Regions from separate parts of the Homo sapiens genome. Here region 1 is linked to region 2. Evidence: fine-mapped expression QTL. A gene starts in region 2. The other region holds a variant in brackets. All regions are shown on one strand. Distances are between the middles of the regions. Region 1 overlaps TMEM151B (transmembrane protein 151B). Region 2 holds the start of AARS2 (alanyl-tRNA synthetase 2, mitochondrial).

Region 1 (10,896 bases), 36 kb after region 2:
CTTCATTCCTTTATCTCATCCTTTTCCTGCTTCTCCACCTCCCCACTGTCTCCCTGGTTCTTGCCCTGGCAACCTCCTTCAAAGAGGTCCTCTCCTTGCCCTGGTGGATCTTGGCTGGGAGAGGAGGATGCAGTGAGGGGCTGAGGCCTCAGGCAGGCTTGGATTCCAAACCTGTCTCAACTGCTTCAATCACTGCATTACTCTGGGGAAATAATGTAAGCCTCCATTTTCTGTCTGTAAAATGGAGAGAACTTTCTCTTCTTCATCGAGATGCTGAAGGTTAGAGATAATGGTTGTGAAAGACCCAAGCGGCCGGGCGCGGTGGCTCACGCCTGTATTCCCAGCACTTTGGGAGGCTGAGGCGGGTGGATCACGAGGTCAGGAGATCAAGACCATCCTGGCTAACACGGTAAAACCCTGTCTCTACTAAAAATACAAAAAATTAGCAGGGCGTGGTGGCGGGCACTTGTAGTCTCAGCTACTCAGGAGGCTGAGGCAGGAGAATGGTGTGAATCCGGAAGGTGGACCTTGCAGTGAGCCAAGATCACGCCACTGCACTCCAGCCTGGGTGACAGAGCGAGACTCCGTCTCAAAAAAAAAAAAAAAAAAAAAGATAAAAAAGGAAGACCCAAGCAGCATACCCAGCATGTAGTAATTGCTCAATAAACAGTGATCTTTCCTCCCTGCTACCTGCCACCAATTCTACACTACTCTGCCATGCTGGTAGGCCTGGCCCCCTCCAAGACCCAGCCAGGTGGCCAACACTAGGTGAGCCAAGTTTGCCAAAGATCTAGGTGGGCAGGCTGATTATCCCTGGCTGGCAGTTGCTGTAGACCCTCTGCCTGCCCACAGATCTTCAAGCTGACCCGAAGCAAGGTGGATGATGACAAGGCACGCATCATAATTCGAAGCCTTCTGGACCACCCAGTCCTCGAGGAGCTGGACTTGTCACAAAACCTCATTGGAGACCGTGGTGCACGAGGTGCTGCCAAGCTGCTGAGCCACAGCCGCCTGCGTGTGCTCAACCTGGCTAACAACCAGGTGCGTGCACCCGGTGCCCAGTCCCTGGCTCACGCTCTGGCACACAACACCAACCTCATTTCCCTCAACCTACGTCTCAACTGCATCGAGGATGAGGGTGGCCAGGCTCTTGCCCATGCCTTGCAGACCAACAAGTGCCTCACCACGCTGCACCTCGGTGGCAATGAGCTGTCTGAGCCCACCGCCACACTCCTGTCACAGGTGCTCGCCATCAACACCACACTCACCAGCATCAACCTGTCCTGCAACCACATCGGGCTGGTGAGCCACCTATTCTGGGCTTGTGAGGGTGGGTGTGGAATCCAACTGCCAGGGGTACTTGTGGGATAATTGTGAAGATCACAGAGTTTACATACTACATACTGCATCAAGTATGCACACATACTGTGTATCCCAATGATTATTTTTCCTTTAATCCTTACAGTTACCTAAGTAACTGTATATTAACCCTAAGCATATTTAACCCTAAATATATTTAAGTATATAACTAAGTATATTTAACCCTACTTTCTAGATGGAAAACTAAGTTTCAGAGAGGATAGTGAGTTGCCCAAGGGCATCAAGTCAGTAGCAAGTGGCAAGGCTACGATTCAAACCCAAGATTGATTGAAAGCCTGAGTCCTTTCTAATAGACTGTGTCTCTAAAACTTTCTTAACCAAGTCTGAGAGTAAGAAATGCAATTTACGACCAGGCACAGTGGCTCACGCCTGTAATCCCAGCACTTTGGGAGGCTGAGGTGGGTAGATCACCTGAGGCCAGGAGTTCGAGACCAGTCTGGCCAACATGGTGAAACCCCATATCTACTAAAAATACAAAAATCAGCCCAATGTGGTGGCATGCACCTGTAACCCCAGCTACTTGGGAGCCTGAGGCAGGAGAATTGCTTGAACCCAGGAGGCGGAGATTGCAGTGAGCTGAGATCGTGCCCCTGCACTCCAGCCTGGGTGACAGTGCGAGACTCCGTCTCAAAAAAAAAATGCAATTTACATGAACACTGACATAAACATAATATTGAAATTTATGACGTGATATATGCTGATATTTTCCTTTACATTCCATTCTATTGTATTTTTTAAAATGCTTCTGTGACCCATTAAATTGACTTTGCAACACACTACTGGGTCACAACCACAGAATGGTAGCATTCTGCCTCCCAACGTGAAATTCTTTCACATTGGGGCTAGCCCACCCAGCCCAGCAGGGGTTGGAGCTGTGATGACCATTGAGCAGGGCCCTCCATTAGGTCACTGAACCCTCTACTAAACCTCCCCATGAGAACAGCCTTGCTCACCTACACAGGCACATACACGCACACACACGTGCATGCGCGCACACACACACACACACAGTTTCTAGAGGGGGTGCTGTTGACTGCAAGTAATAAAAAGCTTAATCAGAAATGGCTTAAGCAGGAGGAATATTCAGTGTCTCCCACAACCAGAATTAGAGGGTTGTAGGGTCGGTAAACCCCTGGGTTCAGTGCTACCCTCTGCTCTGCCCACCCCAGTCTCATGGCCAATGCCTCGCTAGTGCTTCTGTCAGTCCCAAGATGGCTGCCACAGTTCTGACATCTCATACAGGGACATGCCCAGAGGCAGAAACCGGGAGAACACCTGCTCCCTTTTCTTCTCTTTTTGGAATGAGGAGAAGCTTCCCAGAAGCCACCCTCTCTCAGCTTCCCCCTCACATCTCATTAGATTTGTCCCACATGCCCATGGCTGAACCAAAGGAATGGAATTATCTTCATTGCCAGAGATTCATGTTTTTCAAACTAGTAGGGTTGAGATGTCAATTTAGTGGGTATTGGCTACCATTTTTCAAATGGAAAAGAACAGAATATGTCATCATGCGTCACAAATAGGTTAAGTATTGTTTTGTGAAACTTTTGTTTTAGTCACATCTACCTGAAAATGTGTAGTATGTGTGTCAGATCCTGGGTAGTGATGTAAATGACCCCTTCCTTTGCACCCTTCTCCCAGGACGGTGGGAAGCAGCTCCTGGAAGGCATGTCAGACAACAAGACCCTCCTGGAATTTGACTTGCGCCTGTCAGATGTGGCCCAGGAAAGCGAGTACCTCATTGGCCAGGCCCTCTACGCAAACCGAGAAGCAGCCCGCCAGCGGGCCCTGAATCCCAGCCACTTCATGTCAACCATAACTGCCAATGGCCCTGAGAACTCTGTGGGATAAAATGACCTGACTTGGATCATGGCCCCAGCCCCATCCCTCATTTCATACCCCTGCCATGCCTGCTGCAGAGTATCACACTGGTTCAGAGGGAGCGGGGAGGGGGACTGTGAATAACCTTGGAGTGATCAAGGGTTGTATGGATGGAGACATGAGGCAGGGAAGGGAGCCTGGCATGGGGGAAGAAAGGGTATGCAGTAGGGACCCAGCCTTTGTGCCCAGGGAAAGGATATTACTGGACACCCACAAATGACCAACTTCTTTCAGGAACAGGGAAGTCAGAGAGGTGTCTGAGGGACTGTGCCTGCCAGATTCTCCCGTTGGGGCTGCCTGCCTCCCTGACTCCCCACCATTTTCTTCTCTACCAAACAGATCCTTGATCTTCAAACACACACACACACACACACACACACACACACACACACACACACACACCCTCTGGCTACAGCAGGGCTATGCCTGGCTCTCTCTGCCACCCTCATCCCTGTAGATGCATTTCCCTGTTGCTTGACTCTGCTTTAAGTGATCCAGTTCTACAGGCCACGCCATCCCCTAGTTCCCCAACTCCCAACCTGGGAAGGGGACAATGAGCTGACACCAGGGGCTCAGACCCAGTGGACTCCTCTGGGGAGGCAACTGTAGATGACAACTTCCAGGGAAGGATGACACAATCCCTGCCACCCACCCCAGAGAGCTTCCCTGGGAGGGAGGGAAAGAAGTGCCACACTGGGACAGGAAGTCAGTGAGTCATCCACGACTTTATTATCCACCAGTTTGATTTGTACAATCTTTGCGCTTAAATCCACGACAAAAAGGCCACAGTGTGATGCACCCAATTGACAGAGACCTGTCTTCTCCCCAGCCAGGCCCAGCCCACCCCACAAGCCCTTGTCCCCAGGACACATGGAGCCTTCCAGGTGCCCTACATGAGTCCCCCATCACTCTGTAGCTGTCCACCCTGGGGCCACACCTACAGGAATCACATCAGCCCCCAGGGCCACAAGAGACCTAGCTGACTGATTCAGGCTGAGCGCCATTGCCCATCCTCCTTGGGCTGATTCATTGGCCCAGAGCCTCCAGAACTGTGTCCCCAAAGGGCAGGTCATGGGCTACAACCCCAGTCCAGGAGTGCCTGCTCTCCAGGGACTCCTTCCGCTAAGCAGGCGCTGAGCAGAGCACCAAAGGGGGCTTGGGAGTGACTGCATGTGTGTGCCTGTCTAGGCAACCTAGAGTCTGTCTGTGCCTGACACCCTCTGACAGTTCCGGAGTGCAAACGTGTAGGTGTGAGGGTGTGTGTGTGTGTGTGTGTGTGTATAGCCACAGCTGCTAGCAGAAGTTCTAATTAGAGAAACAAGAACATTCAGTGTAAAGTTTAATTTTAGAGATTAATTAATTTTCTGGTTTTCATTTTCCCTGGCAATCAGTAAAGCTACCAAGAAAATAGACCAAAGAATTGGTTTCTCTCTAAGTCTGTGCATGTGTGGGAGATGAGGCTGTCTGAGACGACCTAGGCAGAAATGGTCAATACAGGCAAAAATAATAATAGAGGTCCCCCTTCCCCTCTTGTGAGACCAGGCTCTGTCTCAGGAACAGGCCTGAGGGAGGAGGAGCCACGTTCCTCCTTCCTTGGAGCCCTGAGGTGGCCAGGCTGTCCCCACACAAAGCATGACATCCAGGTGCCAGCTGGCTAAGAAATGGAGCCTGAGGCTGCAGCTCACCACCTGTACCTCACAGATGTCCATTCAGAGGAAAGAAGGGTGCTCCAAACGCCAGGCCCCCAAGGAGCACAGACTCAGGGTCCAGGCAGGTTCAGTGCTAGTAGGCAGGTGGGCACTGCTGTCCAGGAAAACCTGGTGGGCAGCTGTTTCCCCTGCCCAAGCCTCCCTCTCTCTAGCCTCTTCTCCCTCCTCACTCAGCCATCTCTACCTGAAAGTAAAGCTAAACCCTTTAGAAGCCATGGGCCATGGTATCCCCACAATTTGGGCCCCTCGCACTCCCCGCTAGGAAGAAGGGAAGGGGAGCCAGAGGCGATGTTGCATAGGTGGAGGCCACACAGTTGGTGGTGCAGGCCTGGCTGGGCTGAAGGAAGATGAGAGGGGCTGAAGGAGGGTAAGGAGGAGTTCTGATGGCTCAGGCGAAGTAAGAAGCATCAGGGGTGAGAGATGTGGGTGGCCCAAGGGTTATCCTCTCTAGCCTGAAATGTGAGCTCAATCCCTGGGTGCTAAATCTGCTGGGGAGACTTTAGCCAGGGGAGTTGGCAGGGCAGGAGGGCTGTTCACAGACATGCACACTGAAGCACATCAGGGTGGAGGTGGTGGGGGGAGCACACGGAGAGAAGGCGGTGTCAGAGCTTTAGGGGAACAGGACGTGGGGCCAGCGCCCTGGGGTGGTGGCAGGATGCCCCTTTGAAGACCCTGCGACACACAGCAGGGCTTCAGCTCATAGGATAGGGAAGGATGGAAGGGTTGGGCAAGATTTAGAGAATGCTTGCCTCTGACCCTGCCATTGGAATTATTTCTCCAGTTGGGGCTTGTGACAACGTCCTCAGTCCCCCAGAGATGTGTTTGAGCGACAAGCACACTCCACTCCTCCGCACAGGTTTAGGGAGGCAAAGGCCGCCCCCACAGACACCCCACCTCTGGAGGTCCTTTTCCTCTACCCTCCACTGCCCTCTCCTCT[C/G]TTACTCCCACCTGCTTCCAGAGGTCCCCGTTGCCACCCAGGTCTATGTCATGCTCTCTCCCCTTAGTCACTCGTGCTGGCCAGCTTTAACGAGTGCTGCCCGGGTGGCATCTCACTCTCTAAAAGGGGTATACACTCAGAACCCAGGTGAGGAGGCCCCTGTTGGGAGGCTGAGGAGTTTAGAGAGAGGACTGAGGTACACAGTCCTCCACATTTCACTCCCCTCCCCACTGCACCCTGGCAACAGCTCTGCAGGACTGGGGAGCGGAAGGTGAGTGATGTCTGTGCAGTGAGCACAGTCCCTCTGGACCTGGAGTGGGGGCCCAGTTAGATAAACAACAGTGGAGGGAGCGGCAGAAAGGAAACCCCAATCTTGGGGTCAGCGCCAAGAAGAGGGCAGCAACATTTCCACGGTGTTGGATGGAGGCCTAGGGCTGACACCTGGCCCCAGCCTCAGACCTGCTGAATGCATTAGCTAGTTGGAATCCAGCCTGCTGGTCACCAAACCATTGCCCCCTCCATAGAGAGAGGCCCCAGGGGAGTGAGGCCACGAAGGAAGGAAAGCCCCAAGTTCCCTTCTCCACAGCCTCTAAATCTCCCATCCGCATGCCAGGGCCTCTCCCTTCAGACAAGGCCCAACGCGGGGCCCACGGCACGGTTGTCATCTAACAGAAGATCTGTTGAAGGGCTGGACAGGAGGGAGGTGTCCCTTTAGGAACTCAGGGTTGGGGCTGGAAGAATGACTCTGCCAGGGGGATCTCGGGGAGCAGCCGACCCCCTCCCACCCATCGGTCTCTTTATGTACAGGGACAGCGGGGGTCTCGGCCCCATCCGGGCCTGTCTTGCGGCCCTCACCTCCCTTTCCCTGCCCCCCGCGCGGCCTCAGTCACCGTGGTGACTCGCCCTGCGTCGCAGAGGGAGCACAGTCCGGCGAGGGGCAGGCGGGAGGACGGCGCGGGCCACTCCGGGGCCGGAGGTCACAGTGAGGTCTCTACGCAGGAGCCGTGGCGGTGCAGCGGCCGGTGGCTGTGGCCCAGACACCCCTCCTGCCGGTGGACGATGAGGACCGGAAAGTAGAGGGCGTCGTGGTAGGGCGGCGGCGGCCCGGCCTCCTCCTCGTCGTCGTCCTCGTCGTCCCCCATGCTGGCCTGGCTGGACAGCCGCGTCTGCTCCGTGGGGCAGCTGGCCTCGTTGACGCTCCCGCTGCGGCTGCGCCACAGGCAGCTGCGCCGGGAGCCGTAGAGACGGCCCAGCGAGAAGCGGCTGCCCCCGCAGCCCGCGCCCCCACCGGGCCCCGGGCCGGCCCGCGGGCTGGCGCAGATGCTTAGGGCGCTGCGCGAGAAGATAGACGAGCTGCTGACGGCGCGCTGGCAGTGCTCGCAGCTGCGCCGGTAGGGAGCCACGCCCGCCGCGCCCGGGCCGCCTACCCCACCGTAGCGGCACGAGGGCGCGTAGCCGCCGCCTGCCCCGCCGCAGCGCGTCCCGAGCCCCGCCAGGTCCATGAGCACCGCCTCAGAGTAGCTGGGCACCAGCTGCTGGTTGGAGCGGATGTGCCACTCGAGCTCCGTGCTGTCTACTGTGTTGACCCGCGGCAGGCGGTGGGTGAGCGGGGGCAGCAGCTCATCGCTGGGGCTGAGGCCACCGCCTGCGCTGCTGGCCGAGCCCGGGCCCTCCAGGCCAAATAGCTTCTCCACGTGGTAGTGCGCGTAGGCCGTGCGGTACTCGGCCAGCACTCGCAGCGGCCACGACAGCGTGAGCAGCGCCGCGGCCCAGAAGGCCGACGAGCAGGCGTACCAGGGCGGCCGGGCCGGGTCCGGGAAGGCCACCATGAACTCACGGAAGTCCACGTTCTTGAGGTGCATGCCCTCGCGTGCCTCCATGTAGTCGTCTAGGCCCTCGTTCTCTGCGAAGAAGCGCGCGCGCTGGCACAGGTACGCGTTCTCGGCCTCCACGCTGGCGAAACTGAAGCACTTGGTGAAGCGCAGCCGCGTGGCCGGCGCGCCCTCCAGCCCCACCAGCGTCTTGGACACGTCGCGAACGCCGCAGCGCGCGTAGTCGAACTCAGCCTCCGCCACGTGCGTGTTGACGCGTTCGTGGTAGACCTGCGGCGCGGGGGGCAGGCGGCGGGGTCGCGGGGAGCCCGTCATTGGTGCCCGCTTCTGCCCACTCACCCTTTCCCGCCCCATCTGTGCTCTGGTTGCCTGGTCGGACCCTAAGTCTGTCTTGGTTTAGGTGCCGGCTGGAGCTGGTTAGGATCTTTCCGTCTGACTTACAGGGCAACTGACGCCCTCTGTGTAATCAGACGTGATGACCGGACTAGAACCAGCCCTACCTGTGCGCATTTAAATTTTTTTTCTTTTTCTTTTTCTTTTTTTTTTTTTTTTTTTGAGATGGAGTCTGGCTCTGTCGCCCAGGCTGGAGTGCAGTGGCGCCATCTCGGCTCACTGCAAGCTCCGCCTCCCGGGTTCATGCCATGCTCCCGCCTCAGCCTCCCGAGTAGCTGGGACTACAGGCGCCCACTACCACGCCAGGCTAATTTTTTGTGTTTTTAGTAGAGACGGGGTTTCACTATGTTGGCCAGAATGGTCTCGATCTCTTGACCTCGTGATCCACCCGCCTCGGCCTCCCAAAGTGCTGGGACTACAGGCATGAGCCACCGCCCCCGGCCGCGCATTTAAATTTTAACTAAGCCCTGCTTCCTCTAGGGGTCAGGCCCTGGCCATGAACTGCCCCTCTGGCCTGCCTGATCCATTTGCCACTGCCTCTGTTTTCCAAAGTGCCCCCACATCACCACAAACAGCCTCCTCTTCTTCTTTCTTCCCTTTTACAATTGTGTTTCCCAATGGGTTCCCCAGAAGCACTCCCTAAAGAACCCCTCTATCTCTAGTCTGCCTGTTCACGCTGTAGCTATCATCAGCCTCCTTCCTGCTTCTCACCCGCCCCAGGCTTCTGTCTATTGATCCTTATACTGAGACAGATGGCCTGCATCTGGGAACGTCTCCTCCAGGACCCCAATATGTCTCATCCTGGCGAGTCCACAAAGTGCTGATTGACCTGCCCACCCTCAGTGAGACTTCCTACGCCCACCTCCTCTTAGACCCTTGAACTTGACATCCAGGAAGCTGGGATTGAGCCTAGCACTACCACTTAAGAGCAGCAGACTTTGGACAAGTCACTGAGTTTAGGTGTCCATACCTGTGAAAGAACTCAGTAGCAGTCACCTCACTGAACAGGTAAGAGCATGCTATGATACTGGGCATGTGAAGCCATCTCCAGCCATTAAGCACTATTTTTATTTTTATTTTTTTTTTTGAGATGGGGTCTTGCACTGTGGCAATCACAGCTCACTACAGCCTCAACTGCCCAGGCTCAAGCGATTCTCCCACCTCAGTTTCCTGAGTAGCCGGGACTACAGGTGCATACCACCACACCAGCTACTTCTTTTTATTATTTATAGAGATGGGGTCTTACTATGTTGCTGCCGGGTGGGCTGGTCTCAAACTCCTGGCTCAAGAGATCCTTCTGCCTCACCAAAGTGCTGAGGTTACAGGCCTGAGCCACCACACTCTGCCATTAATCACTAAGTAGATCCATTAAGCACTAAACAGTATAGAGATCCTGGAGCCAGATTGATTGAGTTCAAGTCTCATCTCCACCACATACTGCCTATTTGACCTTAGACACATTACTTAAACTCTCCAGGCCTCAGTTTCCTCATCTGCAAAATGGGAATACCTGCCTACATCATAGGGTTGTTATGAGGGTTAAATAAATGATTTGATGTGTGTAAAATACTTAGAGCAGAGCCTGGCTCCTGGTCGGTTTTTGCTGTTATGATTATGGTTGTTGCTATTGCCCTGCTGTTGCAATGCTCATGGGAGCTCACTGCTGCCTTTTGCTCCTCCCACCTTCCCCCCAGGGAGGTGGGGAGGGAGTGAGGCAGCACGTAAGTGCCACCTCCCATGTTGAATGTCCTGCACTCCCCACCAGCTCCTCACCTGGGTGGTGGTATAGGCGTCTCCATTGCGGTATCTGGTGACCTGGCGGGTGCGGCGGACATAGTGGTAGCTGATGGCCTTCCACCAGATGCAGGGCGTGGCTTGCTGCATGCGGCCCACACGTTCCCGCACACTGCTCACATCAACACGGTGCTGCAGCTCATGGCGGGCTTGGCAGTGCCAACACTCCACCAGGTAGACGGCGTACAACATGAGCAGGAAGGCCAGGGGGATGTAGACATAGCCGTTGGAGCAGGGGCTGTCATGGTACATGAGGCTGTTGCCCTGGTAGGCGCTGCTGAAGGTGAGGCGCGTCACTGTGGTGACGTGGCACCAGGCCACTGCCCCCAGGCAGCCGTACATGAGCAGCGAGAGCAGGAGGCACTTCCAGTGGGACTCACGGCAGAGGGACTTGGTGAAAGAGGGCTGGATGGGACGCTGCTGCTCAGGTGGGCAGGGAGAGGGGCCAAGATGAGTGGGAAGTGAGAGCAGGCAGGACCCAGCACAGAGATGGATACGGGGATGGAGGGGCAGAGGCCAGCACCAGAGATAACAGGCAGAGAGAAACAGGGATATGGAGAGAAAAGGTGAGACCAAGATGGGAGCCAGGGGCCAGAGGTAGAAACAGAAGTGACACAGAGCAAGCCAGAGGACAGGAAAGGGGACCGGAATGCCAGTACAGGAGAGTGCAGAGAGAGACACCCCAAGAGGCAGAGAAGGATCAGAGCCAGAGATAGAGGCCCAGGCAGCAAACACAGATGGATAGGATGGTACCCAGAGAGCATCCGAAGACAAACACAAAAATGGCAATGAAACAGAAGATGTGGACAGGGAAGACAGGGGAGGACAGACAGACAGGCATCAGCGAAGGAAGGTCCCCAGCCCAGACCCCTTCCAGGTCCTCTAGAAAAGGGGGAGGGACCCACTGACATCACTTCCCCACTTAACAAGTGGGGCCCTCACTTCCAGATTTTTTTCAGTCCTAGGTTCT
Region 2 (10,896 bases):
GGGCAAAAAAATGGACAAAACGAGCCAGAAATATCTTGCCATAACAGAAAGCAAGGAATCTATCAAAGATTACTAGAGTCATGTCAAAGGGACTCAGAAGGCAAATCAAAAAGATTCCCACTAACCAAAGATGGGACACTTTGAGCTTTAATGGACACAGCACTGTAATTGCAATGGACTGGAACCATCAAATAGGCTGAAATCCATGACTTCACAATGATGCTGAAAATACAATAATAGCTCACTTTTGGAGAGTGATAGAAACAAATCCATTATCTTGAACACTGATAACTGAAGGGGGCAAAATCAAGCATGTAGCCTTTTCTACATTAACTATACCACTGATTAACAAATAATTGATTAGGGGAAGCATCTCTTCATAAAAAGACTCCGATTAATAAACGAAAAAGAGATGACAGAATTAACATATCACCATGTTGCACCTTCCAGTGCGTTAACAGATGTAGGCATTATGTTATCGGGGCTGCTAGGATCACAGAAATACAGACAACCATACATTGATGTACCCTCTGGTGAAGGGGTATCTATGGTCTTGCCAAAGAGATTCAAAATTGTGTCTAATCAAATCTCCACATCCAGGTGCTAATTTGCATGAAATAGAGAAGACAGAGGAACATGTTGAATGTGAGTTGAATGTCGAATATGGAGTCAGCAAAAACTTAGACTGTGGGAAACCACAGATCAAATCTCCGTAGCTAAGCAGTAGATACACTGTAAGGAAAAGGATGGAGATGGAACCTATTGATAAAAAGACTTAAAATATCAAGTCGATACGCTTTTTTAAAAAACGTGCAAGACTATAACATCTAAGGATGTACATTTGGGTGATAAACTGTAAAGAAATGCAATGCAGGCTGAACTCGGTGGCTCACACCTGTAATCCCAGCACTTTGGGAGGCTGAGGTGGGTGGATCACCTGAGGTCAGGAGTTCAAGACCAGCCTCGCCAACATGGTGAAACCCCATCTCTACTAAAAATACAAAAATTAGCCAAGCGTGGTGGTGGGTGCCTGTAATCTCAGCTACTCAGGAGGCTGATGCAGGAGAATTGCTTGAACCTGGGAGGTGGAGGTTGCAGTGAGCCGAGATTGTACCATTGCACTCCAGCCTGGGCAACGAGACTGAAACTCTGTTTCAAAAAAAAAAAAATGCAGTGATTACTATGAAAGTCAGGGTAATGGTCACCTTTGGGAGAAGGAAGCTGGTTGGGGGCAGGGCAGAATCCATGGAGGGGCCCTGGGGTGGCTGCAAAGTTCTATTTCAAGACCTGGGTAGTGGATACAAAGATGTCTGCCTTTGAATCAACAACATTGAAACAAGTCAACATTTGTTTTGGTTGATTTTCTGCATCTACGTTTTATGGTGTGATTTTTAAAAAATCTCTATTGCAGTGTTTGGCAAACTTTTTTTGAAAAGCCACGTATTAAATATTTTAGGCTTTCCAGGCCAAGAGGCAAAATCGAAGTTGTTATGTAGGTATTTCTTTTTTTAGTATTTATTGATCATTCTTGGGTGTTTCTCGGAGAGGGGGATGTGGCAGGGTCATAGGATAATAGTGGAGAGAAGGTCAGCAGATAAACACGTGAACAAAGGTCTCCGGTTTTCCTAGGCAGAGGTCCCTGCGGCCTTCTGCAGTGTTTGTGTCCCTGGGTACTTGAGATTAGGGTGTGGTGATGACTCTTAACCAGCATGCTGCCTTCAAGCATCTGTTTAACAAAGCACATCTTGCACCGCCCTTAATCCATTTAACCCTGTTTCAGAGAGCACGGGGTTGGGGGCAAGGTTCTAGATTAACAGCATCCCAAGGCAGAAGAAATTTTCTTAGTACAGAACAAAATGGAGTCTCCTATGTCTACTTCTTTCTTATGTAGGTATTTCTATAACCAGTTAAAATGTTTATCTTGGAGACCGAGGCATGAGGAATGCTTGACACCAGGAGTTCAAAACTAGCCTGGGCAACATAGCAAAACCCTATCTCTTTCAAAAATAATAAAAATAAAATAAAAATAAATAAAATGTAACTACAGTATTTTTTTAATGCATGAGGATAAACCTCTAGAATTGAGGCCCTCAAGGGTCCACCAATACTTGAATTCCTGATCCGGGGGCTCCACCAGCCATCGGCGTGCCCTGATGACTTTGCCAGATTCCCATGGTAACCGCTCCCCTTCCACCCTGGTCCACATTAACCTCCACGGCTCTAAGCCACAGGCGGACGCAATCACCACCCTCACTTCCCTAAGAAGCTGGGGGAAGGAAGGGGGCGAGCGCTCTTGCGCACGATGAGCTCCCAGCTACACCCACCTACTCTGGGTGAGCACCCCTCCCAGGAGAAAGGGAGAACCTAAGGGCACCTGAGTCTTAGGCCCCAGGACCAGGCAAAAGAACGTTTCCTAAAGCCTGTGTCCAGACTCCCCTCACAAGTCCTTTACTACACCCTTGTCACTCAAGGTATGGTCTAGTAGACTAGCAGCAGCAGCAGCATCACCGGGAGCCTGCTAGAAATGCAGAATTTCACCTACTCCAGACCTACTGGATCATAGTCTGCATATGTAACAAGATCGCAGGAGATCCATATGCATATTAATGTTTGGCAAGTGTTGGTTGCTTTCACAATCCAGATAAGCCAATGCCATAAATAAACACATCAAATCAGAAACACCTGTCGTAGGCTGACTTTTTAACCTAGACGCTAAAAGACTGTTTTTATGATTTATAAGAGGAAATTCCCAAAGTTGAGTTCCCCATGCTTAGTAAGAGTGAAAATTCCCTTTGTCTTCTCTGACCATCAATCCAGGACAGAATGTCTCACTGATCTTGGGGTCCTGCTCTCAAAGCCAATCGGGAAATCAGAAAGGACACTTTCTACTCCTAGAATAAGAGTGTTACATCTTTTAAACAAGGTGAAAGGGAGAGCACAAAGAATGGCTGGATGCCTTGAACCTACCAAGATAAGTAGGTCGAATGGCAACGTAAGGGTAAATCCCACCTCCAGGGAAGATAAAGCACCACTGTCTTAAACAATGAAAGGAGCACCCCAAATGTTGCTCACAAAACCCAGCTGAGTAACTCGCAAAAAGCAGACCCCATTTGCATGTTAAACCTCAAAATGAAATTCCCATAAATACTAAGACAGTGGATCAGTACCCTTCAGAGAAGTTCCCAGGATTGGTAACTTCCCTGTCTGATGAGTTTTCTCCACCTCCATCTATCTTGGGAAACTGCAGTCCTTCAATTTAACTTCCTCATCAGATGACAGCTGCAAACCAGAACAGACACGTCCCAATCCTAGATGAACCGCTTTGCTTCACTGGGAAATATTAAAAAGAACCTAATGATTCACCAAAGAGCACCACATTTAAAGAAAAGAAAATTATCATTTTTAGTGGCAAAGACAAAATTAGATGAGAGAAAAACCTACTTCAAACAGAAAACAACTAAAAACATTTTTCTAAAAATCCATGGTACATGCTACAACATGGATGAACCTTGAAAATATTATTTTATGTGAAAGAAGCCAGTTACAAAGAACCACATATTACATGATTCCATTTACATGAAATGTCCAGAATATACAAGTCTGTAGAGACAGAAGGTAGATTAGTGGTTGCCAAGGGCTAGGAAGGATGAGACGATTGGGGGTTAATGGCTAAAGGATTTGGGGTTTTATTTGGAAGTAATGAAAATGTTCTAAAAGTGATTGTGGTGATGGATGGGCAACTCTATGTAAATATACTAAAAGGCATTGAACTGTATACTTTATTTAAATGGGCGAATTGTATAGCATGTAAATTATATTTCAATAAAGCTGTTTTAAAAAAATTATATGGCTCCACACTAGATCCATGTTTGGAGTTTCTAATGTAACACAATGACTTTCTGGGCAAAATCTGAAAAAAAAAAAGTTGATGTCAGTACTGAGTAGAGGCCCTGCCAGGTTTGTATGGCAAAACACTCCCATCTCAGTTTGGGAAATAATTTCACAGTCTTGTCTAAAGATCATCAATCTCAGCTGGGCGCAGTGGTGCATGCCTGTAATCCCAGCACTTCGGAAGGCTGAGGTAGGCAGGTCAGCTGAGGTCGGGAGTTCAAGACCAGCCTGACCAACATGGAGAAACCCCATCTCTACTAAAAATACAAAATTAGCCGGGCGTGGTGATGCATGCCTGTAATCCCAGCTACTCAGGAGGCTAAGGCAGGATAATTGCTTGAACCCGGGAGACAGAGGTTGCAGAGAGCCGAGATTGTGCTATTGCACGCCAGCACAACAAGAGTGAAACCCCATCTCAAAAAAATAAAAAAGTCATTAATCACACAGAAATCCCCAGCTGGCTTTAGCTTTCTGTTCCAGAAACACTGGAAAAACCAAAACAGGCCAAACACACTTTCAAAACAACACCTTTAATCTATGTGGGCAAAGGGAGAAAAAGGGGATCATGGAATAGGAGTTATAGGTGCTGTCAGAACACAAAGTTAAGAATTTACTATCACTATAGAAATTCAAGTCCAATGTAGATTCCGCAGAGAAACTATGTATACAAAGACCCCAAATAACTTAACACACACAGAATCGTGGCTAAAAGAGACCACCCTGATGGCTAAGGCCTTCTCGGTTATTACACTGACCTCAGCTCTGGAACCTCTATTGAGTTTTAGCTTTGGCAGATTCTCTTCTGTCTTCCCAATCTGTTTAATTTCCCAAGCCAAGGGCATCATGAGAAGCCCCATGAGCACCCTGATTGCATCCACAAGGGCCTGTTGGCTTCAGGGTCACAGCTGTTACTATGGAAAGACAGAAGGGAGAGGTAGAACAGGTATATCTCTTATCCTAAACGAAAACACACAAAACCTTAGGGCATTAGAAGGCTTAGAGAGTGAAATCTCTGCAGCTATTAGCCAACAGCTTCCTCCTGCCTTGACGACCTGGATTCTCTCTGATCCCCAGGCAAATGAGAAGACCAAATGTTAGGCAATTAATAATATAGCAGATGCTGTTTGGCTTCTGTGTTCTCCTATAGACTCCTGCTTCACGGGCAAAAATGGCCGTGTCTGATGCCAAGGTCCAAGGAAACTGGCAAATGCCTAGAACAGTGCCTAGCACATACTAGGTCTTCAATAAATATTTGTTGAATACCTCTTGAATGAATGCTGATACTCCCCTGTCACTCTCTGCCTTCTTCCCTCAGCCTGGAAAAACACACACAAAACACACACACACACACACACACACACACACGAAGTTGAATCCACACCTGTTTATTGCAACCCCATCTGTAACTTTGCAAAACTAATAAGCACAACAGCAATTACTGCTAGAATACGGATTTCAGTGGGCAGGGCATTTTGTCAATTTTGTACCCTAAAAGCCCAAAACAATGCCTAGCACATAGTAGGCTCTCAATGAATATTTGCTTAATGCCGAATGAATTAAGAGCCTACTATGTGCCGGGCGCTGTGCTAGACTCTGCCAGCGACCCAATCGATCGCTTCCACCCCGGCGGCAGAGGCCGCCCCCTGAGTCCTCCTACCGCCAGGGGCCGCTGTAGGAAACGCCTGGCTTCCTTCCCTCGTCACTCTTTGACCACGTAAAGTCACTGCCCGGAGCTACGATGGCAGCGTCAGTGGCAGCTGCAGCCCGGAGGCTGCGGCGGGCCATTCGAAGGTCGCCCGCATGGCGGGGCCTCAGCCATCGGCCGCTCTCATCGGAGCCCCCTGCAGCCAAGGCCTCGGCCGTGAGGGCCGCCTTTCTGAACTTCTTTCGGGACCGCCATGGCCACCGGCTGGTGCCCTCCGCTTCCGTGCGGCCCCGCGGCGACCCCAGTTTGCTTTTTGTCAATGCGGGCATGAACCAGGTGAGGGCCGAACCATACTGATAGGGAGCGGAGTTCGTGAGTTTTCTGGTGAGAAAGACGCTGCAGGATTGGGCAAAAGAAGCGAGAGGCGGAGTTCGTAGCTTTTGGGGAAAGAGGGCGGTGCTTGGTTGGGTAAAGTGATGGGGGTACGGCGCTCAGAGTATAGGGAGGGCTTGGGGAGGGCTTGAGCTGGGAACTTCTGGATTGGGATTGAGTATTAGGTCCAGAAATGGCTGGAGTGGAATCCCGAGGGAGAAGTCTGATTTCATTTATTCGTTATTTAAATAAAGATAACGCTTTCATTAAATGTTTATTGATCACCTATTGTTTGCTGAGTACTATTCTCTAAGGTTTTGGTTTTTATCAACCACTCATCTTTTCTAGACTTCATTGTCCTCATCTGTAAAATAGGGGCGGCATAAGTTAACCTTAGAGGCCGTCTGGGCTCCCTACTAAATGAGTCTCAGTTTTGTTCCCTGAAGTTATTGGGTGTGGTTGAAGAAGCTGAGACGGAGGATGCCACCTTTCAGCGTCCCATTTCCAGCTCCCAACACATTCCTCCTTCTTTTACCTTGCCTATTTTACTAGGCAGAGGGTCTCCGGTTCATGATTTGTTTACCTCTTCTCTGCTCCCCACACACCAGAGATGGCTGTCCCGAGGCTCCCAGTTTGTCCTCATAGACCAAGATTACACTGCACTCTCAGGGGCACAGTCAGCCTTCGGTCTGAACAGCCATCCCTATCCTCACTCCCCACATTTCCCTTCTACTGAGAAATTGGATATCCCTCTCCCCCTCCCCACTCTATGTGCTTCCAGTTCAAGCCAATCTTTCTGGGCACCGTGGATCCACGAAGCGAGATGGCAGGCTTCCGACGTGTGGCCAACAGCCAGAAATGTGTGAGAGCTGGAGGACACCATAACGACCTGGAAGATGTGGGTCGAGACCTTTCCCATCATACCTTCTTTGAAATGCTTGGCAATTGGGCCTTTGGGGGTGAATATTTTAAGGTGAGTCTCTGGGGATCAGTGATCAGCCAAGAAGGGAGTCAATTTGTCCTGTTTCCATTGTACTGTCTGCTTAGGCAGGGCCTCATACCAGATGTGGAGGCAAAGTGCTAGTTGAGCCGGTGTAACAGGAATTACCTCACCTCCCTGATTGGATTGTAAGTCCCTGAAGGGCAGAGACTGTACTTTCTGCCTAATGATCACTCAAAAATTGTTGTTTGAATAAATGGTCAAACAGCAATGCTAAGGTGCTTACTGGAGTTAAAGATCACTCTAGGCTAGAGTAGGCAGAGAATTTCATGTGAAAGTGGGACTTGGTCTGGGACTTGAAAGAAGATAGGACTTAGAAGAAGGGGGAAGCTTTCTGGGCAGGAAAACACTCAGAGGCAGTAATGGTTCATGGCTTATTCTGGGAACAAGATGGCAGCAGAAATGCTTTTGTCTTAAGTCGGGAGCTAAACTCATGTGGCTTGATTACTTCAGTGGGGTCTCCCTCTCACCCGTCTTCCCCCCCCACCCCATGCTGGTTTCTGCTGCAGGAGGAGGCTTGTAACATGGCCTGGGAACTGCTGACTCAGGTCTATGGGATCCCTGAGGAAAGGCTCTGGATCTCCTACTTTGATGGTGACCCCAAGGCAGGGCTGGACCCAGACCTGGAGACCAGGGACATCTGGCTGAGCTTAGGGTAAGTCAGCCCCCTTCTTATGTTCATTCCTGGAGGTCAGGAGGACTGGAAAGTGGAGACTACCAGCACCAATCCTCAGAGTCTTAGCATTTCATTCCAGGATATTGTGGGGTCAGCCCTGTTCCTCCTCTTGCTGAGCTGTGACTTGAGGGAGGGGCTCTCATGGCAGAGAGAGTCCCAGCTTCTGGGTCTGTCTGTCTCCCACCACTCACCTGCTTTTCTCCCCAGGGTGCCTGCTAGCCGTGTGCTTTCCTTTGGACCACAAGAGAACTTCTGGGAGATGGGGGATACTGGCCCTTGTGGGCCCTGTACTGAGATCCACTACGACCTTGCTGGTGGGGTGGGAGCCCCCCAGCTGGTAGAGCTTTGGAACCTGGTCTTCATGCAACACAACAGGTAATAGGGTGCTGAAGCAGGATGAGAATCCCTGACTAGAAGTGGGAAAGGTGGCAATTAGAAGACTTTGATCTGTTTCATATAAAAACAAACATGTAAACGGTGCTTACCGTGTGTCAGGCACAATTCTCAACACCTTATAGATAATAACTGATTTAATTGTAGTCTTTGCCTGTGACAGCTTAAACAAGTCACTGCTATTCTCTGTTGAACTTGATGATCAACGAGTTGAACTTGATGATCTCAGATTTTCTTCTAGCCTTGACATATCTTTCTAGGGGCAAAGAATTCTGTCCCAAGATGGGATGTCTGGTGCCCAGGCAAGGGCCCAAGCAGGGGTGAGAATGGAAATAGCCCTATATGAGGAAGGACAGGACCCCAAGGCCATCATCATCTGCTATTGCAGGGTGGCAGGGGAAGATACTGATTGTCTGGTTCCTCCCACTGTCAGCTCCCTTGGGCCCCCCCCCATTTCTCTACTCCACTTGGGCATCTGTCTCACACCTGTAATCCTGGGTGGGGCCTCACCTTGCACACCTTCCCTGGCCAGAGAGGCAGATGGAAGCCTGCAGCCCCTGCCCCAGCGGCATGTGGACACAGGAATGGGCCTGGAAAGGCTGGTGGCTGTGCTGCAAGGCAAACACTCCACCTATGACACTGACCTCTTTTCCCCGCTGCTCAACGCCATACAGCAGGTGAGTGCCTCTTCCCTTCCAGAAGCCCTCTAACCTGCTCTTCACAGCCCTCAGCCCCATTGCATTCCATCTTTGTTGAGAACTCAGAGTGTTCTCAGCATCTGAGGACAATAACCAACCAAGAATTCCAAGACGTCAAGCAAGACACTAGGATTCATTACTTATTACCTGATGTTCCTCCTAACTCCTTGCCTCTTTCATTTATTTAGAAAATACGTGTTGAGTGCTTACTTTATGTTAAATCCTTTGTGTTTGGTACAGAAGACACAGCAGTAAGCAGGAAAGAGATCATGGAGATTATATGCTAGCATGAGAGATAGACAATCAATAAATGTGTTAAAGAACAAGGTAATAGCTTACAGATTGTGAACAGGCAGTAAACATGGGTGAAAGTAACTAGGAAGAAGGAGGGGTACAGAGGAATCTTAGATAAGGTGCTTGGGGAAGGCTCACCAAGAAGATGACCTTTGAGCTGAGCCCCAAAGGAGGAGTCAGCTACAGGAAGTTCTTTCCAGGCAGAGGGGACAGCAGGTACCAAGGGCCTTGGTACTGATGGATTAGATGGGGAGGGGAAAGAGAAATCAAAGATGGCTCCCAGGCTATTGGCTTGAGCAACACAGTGAATGGCATGACTGTTTACTGAGATGAAGAAGCTTGGGGAAGAGAGAGGTTTGGAGCTAGGTGAATCAAGCTCCCTGCTTTGGAGCATTTCCACATGTGTGTAGCTTATACCCTCCCTCCTTGCCCCGCAAGAAAGGGCTTGACATGTGCCAAAAACTAAAAGGTGGCCAGCCAGCTAAAGGAGAATCCCATGGGATATAGTAGGAACATGTGTCAGTTGGCTTTTGCTGTATAACCACCCTAATGCTCTGTGGCTTAACCAACAACCATGTATCTGCCCCCTGAGTCTGTGAGCTAGCGTTTAGGCTGGGCTTAGCTGGCTCATTCTTTGGTCTTGTGTGAGCTCATTCATCCATCTGTGGTGAGCTGAGAGGCCGCAGCTCCTCTGGGGCTTGGCTGGCTGTCAGTTTGGGGGCAGTAGGGGTGACTGGACCATGTGTCTGTCATCACCTAGCTGGCTAGTCTGGGCTTGTCCACATCACAGCTCAGCAAGGTTCCAAGACAGAGAGCAGACACATAGGCTCAGAACAGTGTTGTTTCCACTGTATTCTATGGGCCAAAGCAAGTCACAAAGCCAGCAGAGATTCAGGGGATGGAGAAATGGATTCTGTCCCTTGATGGGAAACAGCTGTAAAGTCCCATTTTAAAGTGGCATATGCCTAGGAAAGGGCCATTTTTGTGAACAGTCTCACAGAGAAGAAGGCAGAATCCAGTCTTGTGGGCCTCAAAGTCCAAAGTGGGGCCTTGATTCTCAGAGTGGTGAGAAGAGTTCTCAGGGCTGGGCACGGTGGCTCACTCCTGTAATCCCAGCACTTGGGGAGGCAGAGGGGGGCGGATCGCTTGAGGTCAGGAGTTGGAGACCAGCCTGGCCAACATGGCAAAATCCTGTCTCTACTAAAAAAATAGAAAAATCAGCCAGGCATGGTGGCACACACCTGTAGTCCCAGCCACTTGGGAGGCTGAGGCAGGAGAATCTCTTGAACCCAGGAGGTGGAGGTTGCAGTAAGCTGAGATCGTGCTACTGCACTCTAACCTGGGCAACAGAGTGAGAGTTCATCTCAAAAAAAATAAATAAATAAAAGTGTACATCAGATCATGCCACACTCCCCACTGAGAACCCTTCTTTTTTTTTTTTGAGACAGAGTCTTGCTTGCTCTGTTGTCCAGGCTGGAGTGCAGTGGCATGATCTCGGCTCACTGCAACCTCTGCCTCCGGGGCTCAAGCAATTCTCGTGCCTCAGCCTCCAGAGTAGCTGGGATTACAGGCACCCGCCAACACACCTGACTAATTTTTGTATTTTTAGTACAGATGGGGTTTCACCAGGATTGGCCAGGCTGGTCTCAAACTCCTGACCTCAGGTGATCCACCCGCCTCAGCCTCCCAAAGTGTTGAGATTACAGGTGTGAGCCACCGCGCCCAGCCTGATGTACACTTTTAAAAGGCTACTCCTGTTGCTGTGTGGAGGATGAGCTGGAGGGAGATGAGAGCAGAAACTTAGGAATCAGTTGGGAGGCTATTATCGGTCCAGGCAAGGACCACAGGGCATGCTTCGGATAATAGCAGTGGAAGTAGAGACAAGTAGATTGATTTGAGAGATGTCATGGAGGTAGGAGCAAAAGGA

What was found.
Region 1: its variant is fine-mapped to the expression of AARS2 in tibial nerve (GTEx, PIP 0.94). The same link has a PIP of 0.9 or more in prefrontal cortex.

Annotation. Positions count from the first base shown.
Region 1 is chr6:44,272,516-44,283,411 of GRCh38, reverse strand. TMEM151B (transmembrane protein 151B) reads right to left here. Exons shown (of 3, transcript NM_001137560.2): 2 at 9,906-10,346; 3 at 3,968-8,009. The coding sequence ends at 6,885. It overlaps DRC5 (dynein regulatory complex subunit 5), which reads left to right. Exons shown (of 5, transcript NM_182539.4): 4 at 853-1,302; 5 at 3,022-4,678. The coding sequence ends at 3,231. Among named protein-coding and RNA genes, the nearest start is that of TMEM151B, 7.5 kb to the right of the region's middle. RefSeq lists an enhancer at 7,211-8,003. The variant C/G (reference allele first, on the strand shown) is at 5,908.
Region 2 is chr6:44,308,057-44,318,952 of GRCh38, reverse strand. AARS2 (alanyl-tRNA synthetase 2, mitochondrial) reads left to right here and starts at 5,606. Exons shown (of 22, transcript NM_020745.4): 1 at 5,606-5,872; 2 at 6,690-6,881; 3 at 7,418-7,563; 4 at 7,792-7,959; 5 at 8,510-8,654. The coding sequence starts at 5,630. LOC124901322 (a long non-coding RNA gene) reads right to left here. Exons shown (of 3, transcript XR_007059594.1): 3 at 4,406-4,802. RefSeq lists an enhancer at 5,302-5,861.